Linked DNA regions of Homo sapiens: region 1 is linked to region 2. Evidence: fine-mapped QTL for protein levels in blood plasma. Region 2 holds a variant in brackets. A gene starts in the other region. All regions are shown on their reverse strands.

Region 1 (8,318 bases), not on the chromosome of region 2:
TTTATAATTACTTATTTTAAAAAAGGTATAAATTTGACCAAATGTGTATAGAACTTGTATGCTGAAAACTATACAACATTTATGAAGGAATCAAAGAACAACTAAATAAATGGACATATATACCCATGTTCATGGATTGGAAGACTTAATAGTAAAAATGTCAGTTCTCGAAGAATATACATGTTTAATGCAATTCCTATCATAATCCCAGCAAAATTTTTAATGAATATAAACAAGGTTATTTTAAAATTTATATTGAAAGGTGAAGGAACTAGAATCGTTCAAAGAATCTTGTAGACTGAGTGTGGTAGCTCACATTTGTAATCCCAGTGCATTGGGAGGTCACAGTGGGAGGGTGGCTTAAGGCCGGGAGTTCAAGACCAGCCTGGGCAACATGGAGAGATTCCTTCTCTACCAAAAAAAAAAAAAAAAAAAAAAAAAAAAAAAAGTCTTGTAAATGAAGAATAAAGTGAGAGGAACCAGCCTATTCAATTTCAAGATTTATAGAGAACTTCAATAATCAAGACTGTGTGGTATTGGTGGAGGAATAGACACAGACCAAAGAAACAAAAGAGAGAACCCAGAAATAGACCTGTACAAGCAGGCAGCTGAATTTTACAAAAGTGCAAAAGCAATTCAGTGGAGGAAAGGCAGCCTTTTCAACAAACTGTGCTGGAGCAATGGGACATGTAGAGACAAATGAACCTTGATCTAAATCTCACACTCCAGACAAAAAGTAACTCAAAATAGCTTACAGACTTAAGCATAAAATGTAAATCTATACAACTTTTAGAGAAAAACACAGGAGAAAATCTCTTGAGGTAGGACTACACAGAGTTCTTAGACTTGACACCAAATGCATAATCCATAAAACAAAAAATTGATAAATTGTTTCTGATCAAAATGAAAACTTTTGCTCTGCAAAAGACCTTGTTAAAAGGATTAAAAGACAAGCTACAGACTGGAAGAAAATATTTGCAATCACACATCTAGTATCTAGTAGACTAATGTCTAGAATATACCAAGAACTCTCAAAACTCAACAGTAAGAAAACAACAAGCAAACAATTAAAAAATAGCCAAAGGCTGCAATGAACGGAGATCGTACCAACGCACTCCAGACTGGGTGACAGAACGAGACCCTGTCTCAAAAAAAAGAAAAAAGAAAAGAAAAGAAAGAAAGAAAATAGCCTAAAGGATGGGCGTGGTGGCTCATGCCTGTAATTCCAGCACTTTGGGAGGCTGAGGCCGGTCAGATCGCCTGAGCTCAGGAATTTGAGACCACCCTGGGCAACATGATGAAACCCCGTCTCTACTAAAATACAAAAAGTTAGCCAGGTGTGGTGGCCTGCACCTGTAGTCCCAGCTACTAGGGAGGCTGAGGCATGAGAATTGTTTGAGCCTGGGAGGTGGAGGTTGCAATGAAACAAGATGGCGCCACTGCACTTCAGCTTGGGCTACAGAGTGAGGCTCAGTCTCAAAAAAAAAAAAAAAAAAAGGGGGGTGGGGGGCAAGAAAATAGCCGAAAGACAAGAAAAGACATTTTACTGAATGGGATATATAGATGGCAAATACGCACATGAAACAACATTAGCCATTAGGCAAAAGCAAATTAAAAACCACAGTGAAATATCATCACTACACACTTAACAGAAAGACTAAAATTTTTAAAATGGTGACAACACTACATGCTGACATGAATGCTGAGAGACTGGTTCTCTCCTACACTGCTGGTAGGAATGTAAAATGCTACAGTCACTCTGGAAAACATTTTGGCATTCTCTTTAAAAACTTGCAATTTCCCTACAGCTCAGCAATTGCACTCCTGGGCCCTCATCTCAGAGAATGAAGACTTAGGTTCACACAAAAACATGTACACGGAGGTTTACAGCAGCTTTATTCTTAATCAACAAACACTGGAAACAACGCAGATATCCTTCAGCAGATGACCTGTTAGACACACTGTGGTACTTCCATACTGTGGACTGCTACACCCAACCCACCTGGAATTATGCTGAATGAAAAGGTGAATCCTAGAGGTTATGTACTTTATGATTCTATTCATAAAATATCCTTGAAATGACAAAATTTTAGAAATGGAGAACAAATTAGCAGTTGCCAGGGGTTCTAGGGGAGTGAGGATGAGAGGGAAGTGGATGTGGCTATAAAAGCATACCACTTTGTGGGGTAGAGACGTTCTGTAGCTTGACTACAGATATTCTATCAGTGTCAGTATCCTGTTGTGATATTTACTGTGGTTTGTGAGAAGTTGCCATTGCAGGAAACTGAGTAAAGGGCACATAGCATCTCTCTTTATTATTTGTTACAACTGCATGCGAATCTACAATTATCTCAGAATAAGTTTAATTAAAAGAAAAAGCCAGATACAGAACAATACGATCTGTCTCTTAACTCCCAAATTCCCAGTTGGCTGGCCACACACCACAGTCTCAGTTCTGTCCATAACCAAGTTTGGGGGATCTCTTCAAGTTTGCAAATGTCACTTCTACTGAGATCCCTCTGACAACTTCAGTGAAGTCTCTCCTCAAAGCTTTTTTTTTTTTTTTTTTTTTTTGAGACAGAGCCTTGCTCTGTCGCTCAGGCTGGAGTGCAATCACTGCAACCTCTGTCTCCCGGGTTCAAGCGATTCTCCTGCCTCAGCCTCCCGAGTAGCTGGGATTACAGGTGCCCGCTACCATGCCCAGCTAATTTTTGTATTTTTAGTAGAGATGGGGTTTCACCATGTTGGTCAGGCTGGTCTCCAGCTCCTGACCTCAGATGATCCACCTGCCTGGCCTCCCAAAGGACTGGGATTACAGGCGTGAGCCACTGAGCCCGGCCTCTCCTCCAAATTTTCAAGCTGTGTATTTTAAATCATAAAATGTTAGAGCCAGGAACATTTGAAATAATGCCTTGATAAAAGCGTCCATCAGACCCCCGAGCACCCTTCCTTTCCATGAATTATAACCAACGGAAATCCGGTGCACTTAGCATGTCCAGCTTTGAGTGAAGCCCCCAAGCTTCCTGCCCCTGAGACTGCCGCCCCTAAACCTCTCTTGCATGGATTCTGTAGAGCTGCCCCGACCAGAAGTCACTTAGCCACTCCTCTGCTCCAGGCCTCGTGGCCTGCTGGAGGCCAGACAGTGGGTAAGTCACGCTCAGCAGTGCCTACAACTCAAGCCACTGCTCAAAGGCTGTTGTTTTATTTCTCAAGTTAGACCACAGGCTCTGTAGCAACTTGGGCCTCCTTGGACACACACAGTGTGACGCTGAGACACAGTCCTCAACGCTGCTATGGTGTAGAATTTTTTGCGGAGAAAGACAGGAAGGCCTCTTGAGGTCAGTGTGAGACAGGGACACTCCACTGGGGCATAGGTATATCACTCACAGGTTGAAGGTAGGTAGACTGAGGCTCAAAGAGCAAGCGGAGGAGCTAATGTTCAACCCAGGTGGTGTGGAGTCTCAGTCCAGTGGCCTTACCCTCCACGGCCACGTTGCTAGTTATACTGGACAGAGCTCAGACTGTGCCCTGGCCTGTGTAGATGCACCAGAGGTTTTATCTGGGGGTCACAGCCGCTGGGAACGGGAGAGTTGCTGGGGATTGCCAGGAAGGGACAAGGCATTTGTAGCCATGCACCATCTGCTTTTACACTACCCTAGAGTCAAGTGGACCCCCTCCAGCATTTTTTTTTCCCCGAGATGGAGTCTCACTCTGTCACCCAGGCTGAAGTGCAATGGTGTGGTATCGGCTCACTGCAACCTCTGCCTCCCGGGTTCAAGCGATTCTCCTGAGTAGCTGGGACTACAGGCGCATGCCACCACGACCGGTTAATTGCCCCTCCAGCATTGTATGTGTCTGACTGCAATGAAGTGTGAGTGTGTCTGTGTGCGACTGTGTGTGTATGATGTGAGTGTGTCTGTGTCTATGTGGGGGCCAGGTGTATAGTCTGCATATGTCTGTGCACCTCTGTGTCTCTGTGGGTTGTCTGTGCCTATGTCTCGGCTTGTGTGTGTGCATGCATGTGTGGTCTGTGTGTGTCTGTATGCATGTGGTATCTCTGGGATGTGTGTCTGTATGTCCCTGCGTGCAGTGTAGTGACTTTGGGAGTGCACATGTGTACACGTGTGGTGAGTGTGCGGCCCTGCGCGAGTTGTCTGTGTACGTGTGGTGCCTGTGGGTCTGTGTGCGCGCGTGTGCCCGTGGGTGTGGTGTGTCCTCCCGCGCTGAGGCTCCCATGAACCCAGCTCAGTTCAGGCCTCCCTGACAGTCCTCGGGCGGCCACCCCGGGGCGCGGCTGTCCACGAGGCGCGGAGGAGAGGAGTGCGTGGCTGGGTCGGCGGGCGGCGCCCCCGCTCCTCCCCGCGGGCCGGGCACACGTGGGCCCCGGGCGCCGCCTCCCCGCGCCGCCCGCCGCCCGCCGGGTCCCGCGCGTCCCCACCCACCTCGGGCCGCCCCCGCCGCCGAGCCGGCCCAGGGATAAAGTGGCGGCGCAGACGCCGCACCCTGTCGCCGCGAAGCCGGTCGCGCGCAGCTCGTCCCGGCCCTGGCCCGCCGCAAACGAGGATCCGCTGCGCTCGGGGAACGCGACAGCGGCGCTCGTGGCCCCGGTAACTGCCTCCCGGCCCCTGCCCCAGCCCGCCAGTGCCGCCGTCAGGGGTGGGGAGCAGCACTGGGGTCCCGGACACGCCCGGCGTGGGCTCCCGCTACCCATGTGTGCGTGTGTGTGTGTGCACGGTGTGTGTGCGCGCGTGTCCGAGTGTGCGCGCGTGTGCGCGCGCGCGCGCCCTCCCTGCTCCTTCGCACCAGCCCCCAAACCAACTTGTCCCCATCAACTCCATCTTTCTAGTCCCCACCTTCCCCGGTGCAGACACCCGGCGAAGCCCACCCGGTTTTCCCAGCGGCATTTCCGATGACAGCTTCGGGGCTACGTGTCCTGTGCTGTCGGAGACGCACAGGAAGCAAAGTTTGTGAGAAGCCTTGGGGGCGACTTTGCCTTGGGCACCCGCATTTGTGCGTCTGCGAGGTGCCTCGGTGTGCGCGGAGCTAGTTTCCCAGTTTCCCGGGCCCCTCCCTTCTCCGAGCCCCTCTAGCGATTTGTTTAGGAAAAGTGATGACATGAACTAGTAGTGGAGAATCGCAGCGCCGCTCCCCGCCCTGGGGAGGGAGGGGAGCCCCGGAGAGCCTGCCGGTGGGAGCTGGAAGCAGGCTCCCGGCTGAGCGCCCCAGCCCGAAAGGCAGGGTCTGGGTGCGGGAAGAGGGCTCGGAGCTGCCTTCCTGCTGCCTTGGGGCCGCCCAGATGAGGGAACAGCCCGATTTGCCTGGTTCTGATTCTCCAGGCTGTCGTGGTTGTGGAATGCAAACGCCAGCACATAATGGAAACAGGTTTGTCATGTATCCTTGGAATTTCAGATGGGAGGAATAATCTGAGTATCATCCACCTCATTATTGTGCCCACTTGAAACTGTTCCTTGGAGATTTTAAGATAGATGGGTCTTCTTGCAGCTGGGTCTTTGTACCCATAGAGCTGACTATAATTTCCACTTGATTACAGCTAAAATAGTCTTTAAGATGAAGTTTCCTGAAATGATTTAAAATAAACACAGATGGGAAGGGGGAAAAACTGTAATGAGGCACTTAAAAAATAAAGTGAGCATTTTCTTAAGAACAAATGGGATTTTTCAGTCTTGGAGAGGTTTGCAAGAAATGTATGTATGTTTTAAACCTTTGAAACAGAGGGGTTTTTTAAACTGCTTTTAAAAAAATGTTACTGACTCTGAACTAGACTTTTCTCTCCTATCCATACATGTTCTTGAGATATTTCTGACTTTGGAATATGTCACTTTTCCTTCTAGGACCTGAAGACCCTTCCAGCATGCCAGAGGAAAGTTCCCCCAGGCGGACCCCGCAGAGCATTCCCTACCAGGACCTCCCTCACCTGGTCAATGCAGACGGACAGTACCTCTTCTGCAGGTACTGGAAACCCACAGGCACACCCAAGTAAGTCTTCCCCAGAAAGTCACCCCAGGTGACAGGGGAGCATGGCCCCTGCTTCTCCTCTGGTCGTTATCATGTGCCATCTGGGGCGGGGCCGCTTTCTCTATGACCTACTTCCCCTGCCGTTTTAATGTTAGGCTGAGCAATGTTAACAAAGCTAAAATGTATACTTTATAATTTTTAAATTTAAGAAGCAGGAATTCTTTTTTCATTATAACAACTCAGATATGGATCCTACCGTATGGCAATTTTCAAAAATTCCACATGACTTTATTTTTTGTACTGGAGTTGATTTCCGGTTGTACAGGCATTCATTTAAAATCAAACCCGACAATTAAGGAAAATCCCCTAGATGGATGAGAAACCCGAAGTAATACATATATCTTCACCTTTGCTCACTTTTCCTGCTTGTTTCTGAGCTTCTGAAGATGGCATACATGTGTCACCAGGAAGAAAGGGGCCTGGGTATTTCCTTCTGATTCCTTGCCAGCTCAATTACTTTGTACATTTTCCATCAAGGATTTGTCTTGCTATTAGAAGCAAACATTGGGACTATACACAAGACAGCTGGTCTCCTGCTGCTGCTCCCTCCTCTTGGATGAAGCAGGAAAACCCTGCTTGTTTGTGTTATTTGGAAAAAGAATTTATTTGTGGTAACCAATTGGCCTGGTGACAAGAACATTTCCTGTTCCAGGGACATTTTACCTGTTTTGTAGGCCTCTTGTCTCCTAGGGATCATTGTGTGGTTGGATTATGTCTCTCTTTGTGCTCCAGTAATCACCCAACCCTCACACAGGTGTAAAATTTCTTCTCTGTCTTCATCAAGGTATCTATGATCCAGGGAGCTGCACGTTAAAAACACAGAGATATGGACTTTTAAAACCCGGCATAGAGTCATAGCTTCAGGGCAGCTACACAGACTGGCTATGGTTTCTCTCTAGTGTTTTCAAGTGGGTAACGTGCTGAGAAGAGTTCCTACCAGTTCTGGTAATACATTTCTTAAAGAATGTGTCTGTACGTGCATACGCATTAGAGGAAGTGGGGGGGTTGTTGAGCATTATGATGCTAATTAATCATTAATTCTCCACTCTGACTTAACTGGCTGTAGAATTGCTCAATCTTGGATTAATTTCTAACAGATTAGTGGTTTGTGGTAATTTGATCAATATACAGAAAGAAGACAAATAATTGAAAATAGAAGTTTTTAATGTCTGAGTCTCAGACTTGGGGGGCTTTGTTGGTTAAGTAGTGAGGTTGTCCTAGTTCGAAGTCAACAAAAATAAAGAGGTTCTGCAGTCCTGGCACAGGGGGAGGGTGGTGGGTGAGTGGGTTAGAAACGGTCAAGTTGGCTGCCCTGCCCTCCCTTCGCCTGCGGGTGGTTTTCACAATCTCTGTGCTGAAGTTGCATTGCAGGGAGCCCTCTCTGCTCCGTTGCTTTTGCTCTAGTTAGAGATGATAACTCAACTTCTTAATTTAAACTGAGCTGCCTCTTGGATGTCAGCGTCCGCCTTGTGGTGGGTGCTGATGGGCTTAAGAACAGAGGTGGATGGTTGAGGCAGTTCGGCCCCAGAATTTGGAAGAAACCTATGGGTCTAGAAAAGGTTAAGGGAAAAAAATATTGAGGGCAGGAGCACTGAAATAGAAAGAGCAACAGAACCATGAGCATGTATGAACACTTTCCATAGTGTTATCCTCAGTTTACCAAAGAGGAAGGGGCTGGCCAAGGTCCTACCTACCTGTCCTGCCCTGCCTCCAGCCCCTGGAGATGATGCAGAGGTCCTGGAGGCCCCTTGCCATGACTCATGTTAACCCTGTGCTTGCTGGATCTTGGGGCAGTCTTGGGGGTCCTAGGGTGGGGGCTCAGGGCAGAGGTTTGTGCCAGCCAGCATGAAACACCTCTGTATCTTCATAACCGAGACCAGCTGCTCAGCCTGCCTGCCCTCTTGCATGATCTGGGAGACCCCCGCAGCATCATTATAATAAGTATTATTATTATTGCCTGCACAGAATCATTCACTCTGCTTTTAGGAAGAGGGAGGGGACCTCAAGTCACCAGGGCTTCAATCTTTCCCCCCAGGCTTTTTACCCCTCTTCAGCAAAACTAGGGCCTCGCTTTGTGCAATCCTGTCTCCTCCCAGTTAGGAAGAAAGAAGGGAGGAAAAGCAAGGGGCAAAAAAAGAGGAGACTGAACCCTCCCCCACTACTGTACCAACTGTGGGCAAAACCTGGGTTAAGAGCACCTCATCTCCAGCCCCGCCTCTGCTATCTTTCTCATAGAGACCCTAGGGACCTCAGAAGCCACCCCGGGGGCCTGTGGATATCTT
Region 2 (8,336 bases):
CTCTGAACATACCCTGAACTCTATTACTCTGACCCCTTGTCTTGGGCAACAGGGGAGCATTCACACACAGCCTTCCTGCCCTGGGCATCTTTCATTAACTTGAGGAGAAACAGAATCCAGCCCAAAAGGCTTCTCTCTATCACTGGACAAGTCAAGATGGGAGATAGCAAGTCAGAAGACTCCACCAAGGAAAGTAGGCATATATTTTCTTGGGAGAATAGAAAGCAGGAAAGCTTGAAATATTAATAGGCCAGGACAGCAGTTGACAGAGGAGCTTGAAGGGGAGAGTTTTGATTTTAGAAGGAAAATATGATTTTTAAAAGTTCACTCTGCCAGCCAGGCATAGTGGCTCATGCCTGTAATCCCAGTGCTTTGGGAGGCCAAGGCGGGTCGATTGCTTGAGCCCAAGAGTTGGAGACCATATGGAATAAAATGGGCAACATGGTAAAACTCCGTCTCTACAGAAAATACGTAAAAAATTATCCAAGAACAGTGGCACATGCCTGTAGTCCCAGCTACTCTGGAGGCTGAGGTGGGAGGATTGCTTGCACCTGGGAGTTGAGGCTGTAGTGAGCTATGATCATGCCACTGCACTTCAGCCTGGGTGACAGTGAGACCCTGTCTCAAAAAAACAAAAAGTTTACTCTGCCATTACAAAAGTCTTGAAATTTTATAAGCTACCAAAAAATAAAAATAAGAAATAAGTCTCCGATAATTTCACCACCTCAAGACAACCAATAACCACTATTAACATTTTAGTGTTACTTCCTTTCAGATTTTCTCTGTGCATACTTTTACACAATTTTGATCATTCTTTATATAGAATTTTTTGGCCTAACCTTTTCATCTGTTAGAAATGCAAAATGCTTGTTCCCCAGTGCCATAAAGAAATAGCACTTGAACATAAATTTAATTCTCTCAGCAAGGCAATTTTTACTTTCTGCAGAAAGGGTGCCCATCACAGATGGAACAAAGACAAGAGCACACTTGAACAAAGGAGGTACAAAACATTTATATCTGACCCATCCAGACCCTACTGCTGTGTCCTGATTCCATTGGCTGGAACTGGACCTGACAGTCTAGGCAGCACCCAGTTGGCTAAAGGTTTAAAACTTTTTCTAAAGAGGTAATGGCAGAGGAGAAGAAAGGAAAAGAGGAAGTTGCTTATGAAAAGACTCAGAAAAGTAATAACATTCCCAAATAAGGAAGGGGCATAGGCTGCAAGCTGTGACATGCCTGTGCACAGGTCTAGCACAGATATCTTGGTTAAAGTACAGGGACATAGAATGTATTTAATTTTCTTACATTTAATAACTACATAGGATAGGGCTTAACAAAGAGTTATTAGCACAAAGCAAGGAAGTTTGAAGGAAGTTAGTTTTTAAAAGAAACTATTATCTCTAACACTTATGATTTATTCTTTAACAAGAAGGGAAATTTTGAAGAGGAACTTTTTGCTTTCTACATCACCCAATGTTGTAGGCATTTTCCATGTTGTAGAAAACTCTTAAAACATTTTAGGCCAGGCACGGTGGCTCACACCTGTAATCCCAGCACTTTGGGAGGCCGTGGCAGGCAGATCACGAGGTCAGGAGTTTGAGACCAGGCTGACCAACATGGTGAAACCCCATCCTACTAAAAATACAAAAATTAGCCAGGTGTGATGGCGTGCGCCTGTAATCCCAGCTACTCAGGAGGCTGAGGCAGGAGAATCACTTGAACCTGGGGGGCGGAGGTTGCAGTGAGCCAAGATCGCGCCACTGCACTCCAGCCTGGGTGACAGAGCGAGACTCTGTCTCAAAAAAAAAAAAAAAAAAAAAAATCTTAAATGCTATATTATACTCCTAACTTAAGGAGGTATCACATGTACTTTAATTTTACTGTTATAAATAGCTTGCATACACACAGGGAAGTGAGGTAAGGAGACCACACTCATTTTACTCCATTTGGATGTACAATTGATCCAGCATCATTTACTAAAAATACCAAACCTTAAGTGTTCATCTCAATGAATCTTTATAGTATGAAATATTTCTAGCACCCCAGAAAACTCCTTTGGGTTCCTCTCAGCCCACACCCCACCCCTACCAAAGTAACCACTGTCCTGACATCTGTCATGATGGAATACTTTTGCCTGGTCCTGAACTTTGTATAAATAGAATCAAATAGTAGGCATTCTTGGTTTCTGGCTTGTTTTTTCAACATAATGTCTGTGAGAAACATCCATGTTGTCACATTAGTTTCTTTTTTTATTGCTGAGAAGTATTCCATTGTGTGACTAAAGCACAATTGATTTATCCATTCTCCTGTAGATGGATGTGTGGATTGATTCCATCCGGGGGCTACTGCAAACCAAGCTGCTATGAACATTCTTGCATATATTGTTTGGTGGTTACCTGCATTCATTTCTCTTGGATACGTACCTGGTTTTGTCATAGGGTAGGCATATGTCTAGCTTTAATAGATTCTACCAGTTTTTCAATAAACTCTCCTATCATCAGTATATCAAAGTTCCAGTTGCTCTGCATCCTTGCCAATACTTTTTAAGTTTTGCCATTCTGCATATGTGTAGTAAAACATAATAATGGAGGCCAGGCACAGTGGCTCACGCCTGTAATCCTAGCACTTTGGGAGGCCAAGGCAGGTGGATCACCTGAGGTCAGGAGTTCGAGACCAGCCTGGCCAACACAGCGAAACCCCGTCTCTACTAAAAATACAAAAATCAGCCGGGTGTGGTGGCATGGGCCTGTAGTCCCAGCTACTCAGGAGACTGAGGCAGGAGAATCGTTTGAACCTGGGGGCAGAGGTTGCAGTGAACTGAGATCGCACCACTGCACTTCAGCCTGGGGGAAAGAGCAAGACTCCATCTCAAAAAATAAATAAATAAATAAAAATAATAATAATGGCTTTAATTTTGCATTTCCCCAATATCAAATGATGTAGACCACTTTTTAGATTTGTGTTGGACCACTTAGATATCCTCTTTACAGTATGTCTTCTCCTTGTAGATTTGTTGTCTTTTTCTAAAATATTCTGAATACTAGTCTTTTTTTGGATAAATGTATTGTAAACATGTTCTCCCATTCCATGGTTTGTCCTTTAATTCTTTTAATCTTGTATTTTGATGAACAGAAGTACAGAAGTTCTTAATCTTAAATAAGTCCTAATTTGTCAGTTTTTTAAATTTCATAGTTAGTGATTTCTGTGTTCTGATTAAGAAATTTTTGCCTACAAGGTTGTGACAATATTCTCCTATATGTTTTTCTAAAAGTGTATTGTTTTACCTTTCAAATCTAGGTCTATGATCCATTTGGAATTAATGTTGGTATAGGATGTGAGAGAAAAGTTCATTTTTTCCATATAGGCATGCAATCGATCCAGTATTATTTGCTAAAATGACCATCCTTTGTCCCTGAATTCCAGTGGTATCTTTATTATACATCAGGTGATTATATATGTGTTGGCCTCCTCCTGAATCCTCTATTCTTTTCCATTAGTCTATTTGTCTAATCTGGAGCCATTGTCATACTGTCTTAATAATGTGTGAAAGGAGGTTGGGTGCGGTGGCTCACGCCTGTAATCCCAGCATTTTGGGAGGCCGAGGCGGGTGGATCACGAGGTCAGGAGATCGAGATCATTCTGGCCAACATGGTGAAACCCCATCCCTACTAAAGTACAAAAAATTAGCTGGGCATGGTGGCGGGCGCCTGTAGTCCCAGCTACTCGGAGGCTGAGGCAGGGGAATCGCTTGAACCCGGAAGGCGGAAGTTGCAGTGAGCTGAGATCGCGCCACTGCACTCCAGCCTGGGCGACAGAACGAGATTCTGTCTCAAAAAATAAAAATAAAAAAATAAATAATAATAATAATAATAATAATAATAATGTGTGAAAGGAAACTATCTTAAACCCCCAGAATCACTAAGCTAAAGGGAAAAGTGAAGCAGAGAACTGCTTAGGGCAAACCTGCCTCCCATTCTATTCAATGCCACCCCTCTGCTCACTGAGATAAATGCATATCCTTTTGCCTCTTTTGGAGAGGCTCATCAGAACCTCAAAAGAATGTAACCATTTGTCTCTTATCTACCTATGACCTGGAAGCCCCCTCCTGGCTTTGAGACTTGTCCCGCCTCTGCGGACGGAACCAGTGTTCATCTTACGTATGTTGATTGATGTCTCAGGTCTCCCTAAAATGTATAAAACCAAACTGTGCTCTGACCGCCTTGGACATATATCAGGACCTCCTGAGGTTGTGTTGGGTGTGCGTCCTCAACCTTGGCAAAATAAGCTTTCTAAATTAACCGAAACCTGTCTCAAATTTTGGGGGTTCACAAATGGGAACTTTTTTTGAGACAGGGTCTCACTGTCCCCCAGGCAGGAGTGCAGGGACACAATCTGCAGCCTCAACAATGATCTCCAACAATCCTCCCACCTCAGCCTCACAGGTAACTGAGACTACAGGTATGCGCAACCACACACAGCCAACTTGTTGTTGTT[G/A]TAGTTGTAGAGATGTGGTTTTGCCATGTTGACCAGGCTGGACTTGAACTCTTGGGCTCAAGTGATCCACCCACCTCAGCTTCCTAAAGTGCTGGCATTACAGGCATGAGCCTCCACACCTGGCCAATAATGGGAACTTTATACTAAATCTTGCTATCTGGTATTATAAGTGTTCCAACTTTATTTTCTTTCAGAGTTTGTCTTGACTATTCTAGGTCTTTTCCATTTTATGTAAATTTTAAAATCAACTTTCCAATTCTCACAAAATGTCCTGATGGGATTTTTATTGGGATTACATTGAATCTCCAGATCACTTTGGGGAGAGTTGACATCTTGACTCTGTTGAGTCTTTCGAGTAATGCACGTAGCATCTCTCTTCATTTATTTAGGCTGTCTTTAATTTTAATGCCTTGTTCATATTGATACAGACCTCTGGCACCTCTTTCATTAGATTTATTCTTAAGCATTTGATGTTTATGTTATTGTAAATGATATTTTTTAATTGATTTAAATAGTATAGGAATAAATACCTCAGTAGCCATGAAATGAGAACCCTGGATTTTCACAAGAGTATACATGACCTTCAAACAGAATGGAGAGTGGACTGTTGAATTCAGAACAGCACATGTTGTTCAGAATTGCAGTTTATCTTGATAAGAAAATTAAACAAAGACATTCACATGATTACACCTATTTCTAGAATTTCTCCTTTTTTTCACAGTCACCAGGACCAGGGGCTACAGGGTCCCACGGTGCCTGGAACATAGGCATTGCTTCCCAGTTGCACTGCCTTACGGTCAGCAATTCTCTTCTCCAAAACTGAGCCACTGGCAGACACACATATTGATATTTTGTACCATACACATTGATATTTTAAGCTTTTTAAGAGCTTCTTAAAAGTAGGATCATCCCTGACAGTTTGTAAATGAGGAACTTCCAAGATCCAGGCTGCTAAATCAAATATTATCCTCAGACCAGCTTCCTGTCAGCAAAGACAGCCAACCAAGGTGGGAAACCCACACAGCCTGTCAAAACTTACAAAGAAATGCTGCCTTTCCCAGCATGAAACTGGTCAGATGTCAAAGGCATGAGGATATTAGTACGAGTGTAAAAACTGACTCTATATTCAAAAGAATTCATATCAACCTTCCTTAATTTCTTCAACCTACCACGTTTGTGGGATGGGTCCCAGGAAACAAGGTAGGACCAAGTCGGTGTTTTTTCATTCACCCTTATCTCCATGGCCCAGCAATGCCTGGCATACAACAGAGGCTCAGTCCGGTTGGTTGAATTGAATGGGGGATAAACATAGCCTCTGCCTTCAAAGAGTTCAGAATAGGGGCAGAAATAAAAACTGTAACACGAGTAAGTAATGCCTGTATTGTCATCTTCTGTCTGCAGTGGAGAAGATCCAGCCCTCAGAAGCATAAAAGCTGTCCGCAGAACCAGCCCTGCAGGTACTTTAGGAGAAAAGCCAGTCAACTCCTAGTAATAACAGGTAACATTGGGAGGGTTCTGTGTGCCAGGCACTGTGCTATGTGCTTTCTGTGTATTTACTCATTTAATTCTTCAACAGCCCATAAGCATTGGGTCTTTTTATTATCTAATAATCCCGTTTTTTATAAATGGGGCACAGAGAGGATAAGGAACTTGTTCAAGGTAACACAGCTAGCAAAGAGAGGAGCCAGGATTCAAACCCAGGCCAAGCCCTTGACCACCCTGGGGTGCTACCTCTCCCACATGACAAACTACACAGAATTCTCAAGACTCCCTCACATGTGCTGGGCACAGTGGCTCATGCCTATAATCCCAGCACTTGGGAGGACATGCTGGAGGATTGCTTGAAGCCAAGAGTTCAAGGTGAGCCTGGGCAACATAGGGAGATCCATCTCTACAAAAATAAAAAAATAAGAAGTTAGCCAGGCATAGTGGTATGCACCTATAGTTCCAGCTACTCAGGGGACTGAGTGGGGAGGATCACTTGAGCCTGGGAGAGGCTGCAGTGAGCTCTGATTGCGCCACTGTACTCCAGCCTGGGCAACAGATCAAGACCCTGTCTCAAAAATAAAATAAAAAAGATTCCCTCACATAATCAGCATCAAGGGCTCACCATTAGAGTCACTTTTAAGGGTCATCTGGAGACAGATCTTTCACTGGGTTAAGGCATTTCTTACCTGGAAGGGATAACAAACTTGCTAGCTAACCACATTAGCCAGGCTAAGGGTGTCAATTGTACATGGCTATGGAGGCCCATTAAGAACCTTGTGTATCAGATTTAAACCATGACTGAGGCAGTGATGCCCAGCAAAGAGGATAAGGAGGACCTTAAAGCACTGGCACCCAAGGCTGGAGAAGCCTGAGGCTGCAAAGAATTGAAGGTTTTCTCCAAGCATGACCCCTGTGTTGGCCTTGGGGGCCCTGGAGCAGTCTGAAACCATGTGGACCATGGCTGGGAAGCACGTTAGGAAACAGATCAAGTAAACTACCTGACAAAGCATTTGGGCAAGAGTGCCCTGGGTGCCAGCCAGATGCAGAGAGGAGTTGAACCATGCACCCTGGTCATAGGACAGATCTTCAGAAGGAATGGAATTTAAATGGAGCTCTGCTTTTCAGCAGTCAGTGCAAGAAATCAGGGACTTGCATAAACTTGCCAAGCCGCAAAGCAAATCCCCTTCCACTGAAGAGGTGCTGGGCTTGTCGTAGGATGTGACCCACTGGATGCTGGCAGGCGGTTCTTCTGAGAGACTGAGAGATGCTGGAAAACTCAGCATCTCAGTGAATGACTGGAAGAACAAGGGAGTAAAAGAACATGAAGGTGGGCCACCCTATTCACACACACACACCTATGTGTGTATAGATATTTGTATATATGTGTTTTTATTTTTAAATGATTCTGTCAGGGTCTCAGATAGAGGTGAAATTCTAACCTACTCAGAGTGATTTCTTTTAGGTTCCCAGACCTGGGATCCACATTTTTTGCTCTACTGAGGTAGGAAGGTGTCACTAGATCCATTAAGAACTGCAAATTCAACATCTGTGAGAATGGTTGAAGCTCAAAAGACTGGCCAGCTTCTCAAATACCCAGTGACTGAAATACGTAACTGGCCAGCTTCTCAAATAGCCAAGGCAGTGCCAAGGTTACTACTCAGGAGAATGTCTTCCATGTGCCTGGGGCAGACAGGAAGTGTTCTGACCCTCTGCCCACAGCTTTGTTCCTGTACCCACCAACTCAAGTGATTAATGGGGTGGCAGGTGGTGCAGCAGCCAAGTGACCTTCACACACTGTAACTCCTTTTGTTTCCTATGGGACACTTTCCAGATGGGGTTTTCAGCACTCAGGAAACCTCTTTGTGGCTGGCAGTAATGCAAGAAGTGCAGTGTTTATCCATTTCCTCTCCTGAAGCCCTGCCCTTTGGAGCCTCGTCCTTGTATTGCTGCCCAGGTATTTCACAAATTCCAGATCATTCCCACACTGTTCCTGCACACACAGCGCTATGCCCTGTCCCCTGCTGTCCTCTTGCATGTGACAAGCCACAGTGACTTTATTTCCTATGTGTCTAACCACAAGGCTCTTACAGAAATTTTCCCTGGCTGCCAAGACTCATTCAACATCATAGGTGGCCCAGACTAGAGGGTAGGTAACATTATCATCTCAGAATGTTCTTATGGTGTGTTGGGACCGGAGGTCTGTACCTGGAGGAAAAAGAGAAATCCTGAAACATGTTTTAGCCAAGTAGTAAGCACATAACATCTCTTCCAAGCAAATATAAAACTATAGTAGACCTCAATCTGTCTTCTTTATTAGCTAGGATTAAATTTGACTAAGTGACTTAACAGGGATT

Direction of the effects. Positions count from the first base shown, and alleles are read on the strand shown. Strength reflects both the effect of a copy and how common the allele is.
As copies of A replace G in region 2, the plasma level of the protein whose gene starts at base 5,176 in region 1 goes up (weak association).

What was found. A credible set is the group of variants that fine-mapping cannot tell apart. PIP is the chance, under the fine-mapping model, that this variant and not a neighbour inherited with it causes the effect. The UK Biobank Pharma Proteomics Project read protein levels with antibody pairs (Olink). The fine-mapping took linkage between variants from a reference panel, not from the people measured, so its PIPs are less certain.
Region 1: MGLL starts here. The variant in region 2 is the best candidate, but not a certain one, in a credible set for the plasma level of the MGLL protein (UK Biobank, PIP 0.62).

The regions. Positions count from the first base shown.
Region 1 is chr3:127,819,373-127,827,690 of GRCh38, reverse strand. MGLL (monoglyceride lipase) reads left to right here and starts at 5,176. Exons shown (of 8, transcript NM_007283.7): 1 at 5,176-5,382; 2 at 5,853-5,997. The coding sequence starts at 5,373. RefSeq lists a silencer at 4,215-4,734.
Region 2 is chr16:72,041,917-72,050,252 of GRCh38, reverse strand. No RefSeq gene overlaps it. Among named protein-coding and RNA genes, the nearest start is that of HP, 8.4 kb to the left of the region's middle. The variant G/A (reference allele first, on the strand shown) is at 4,495.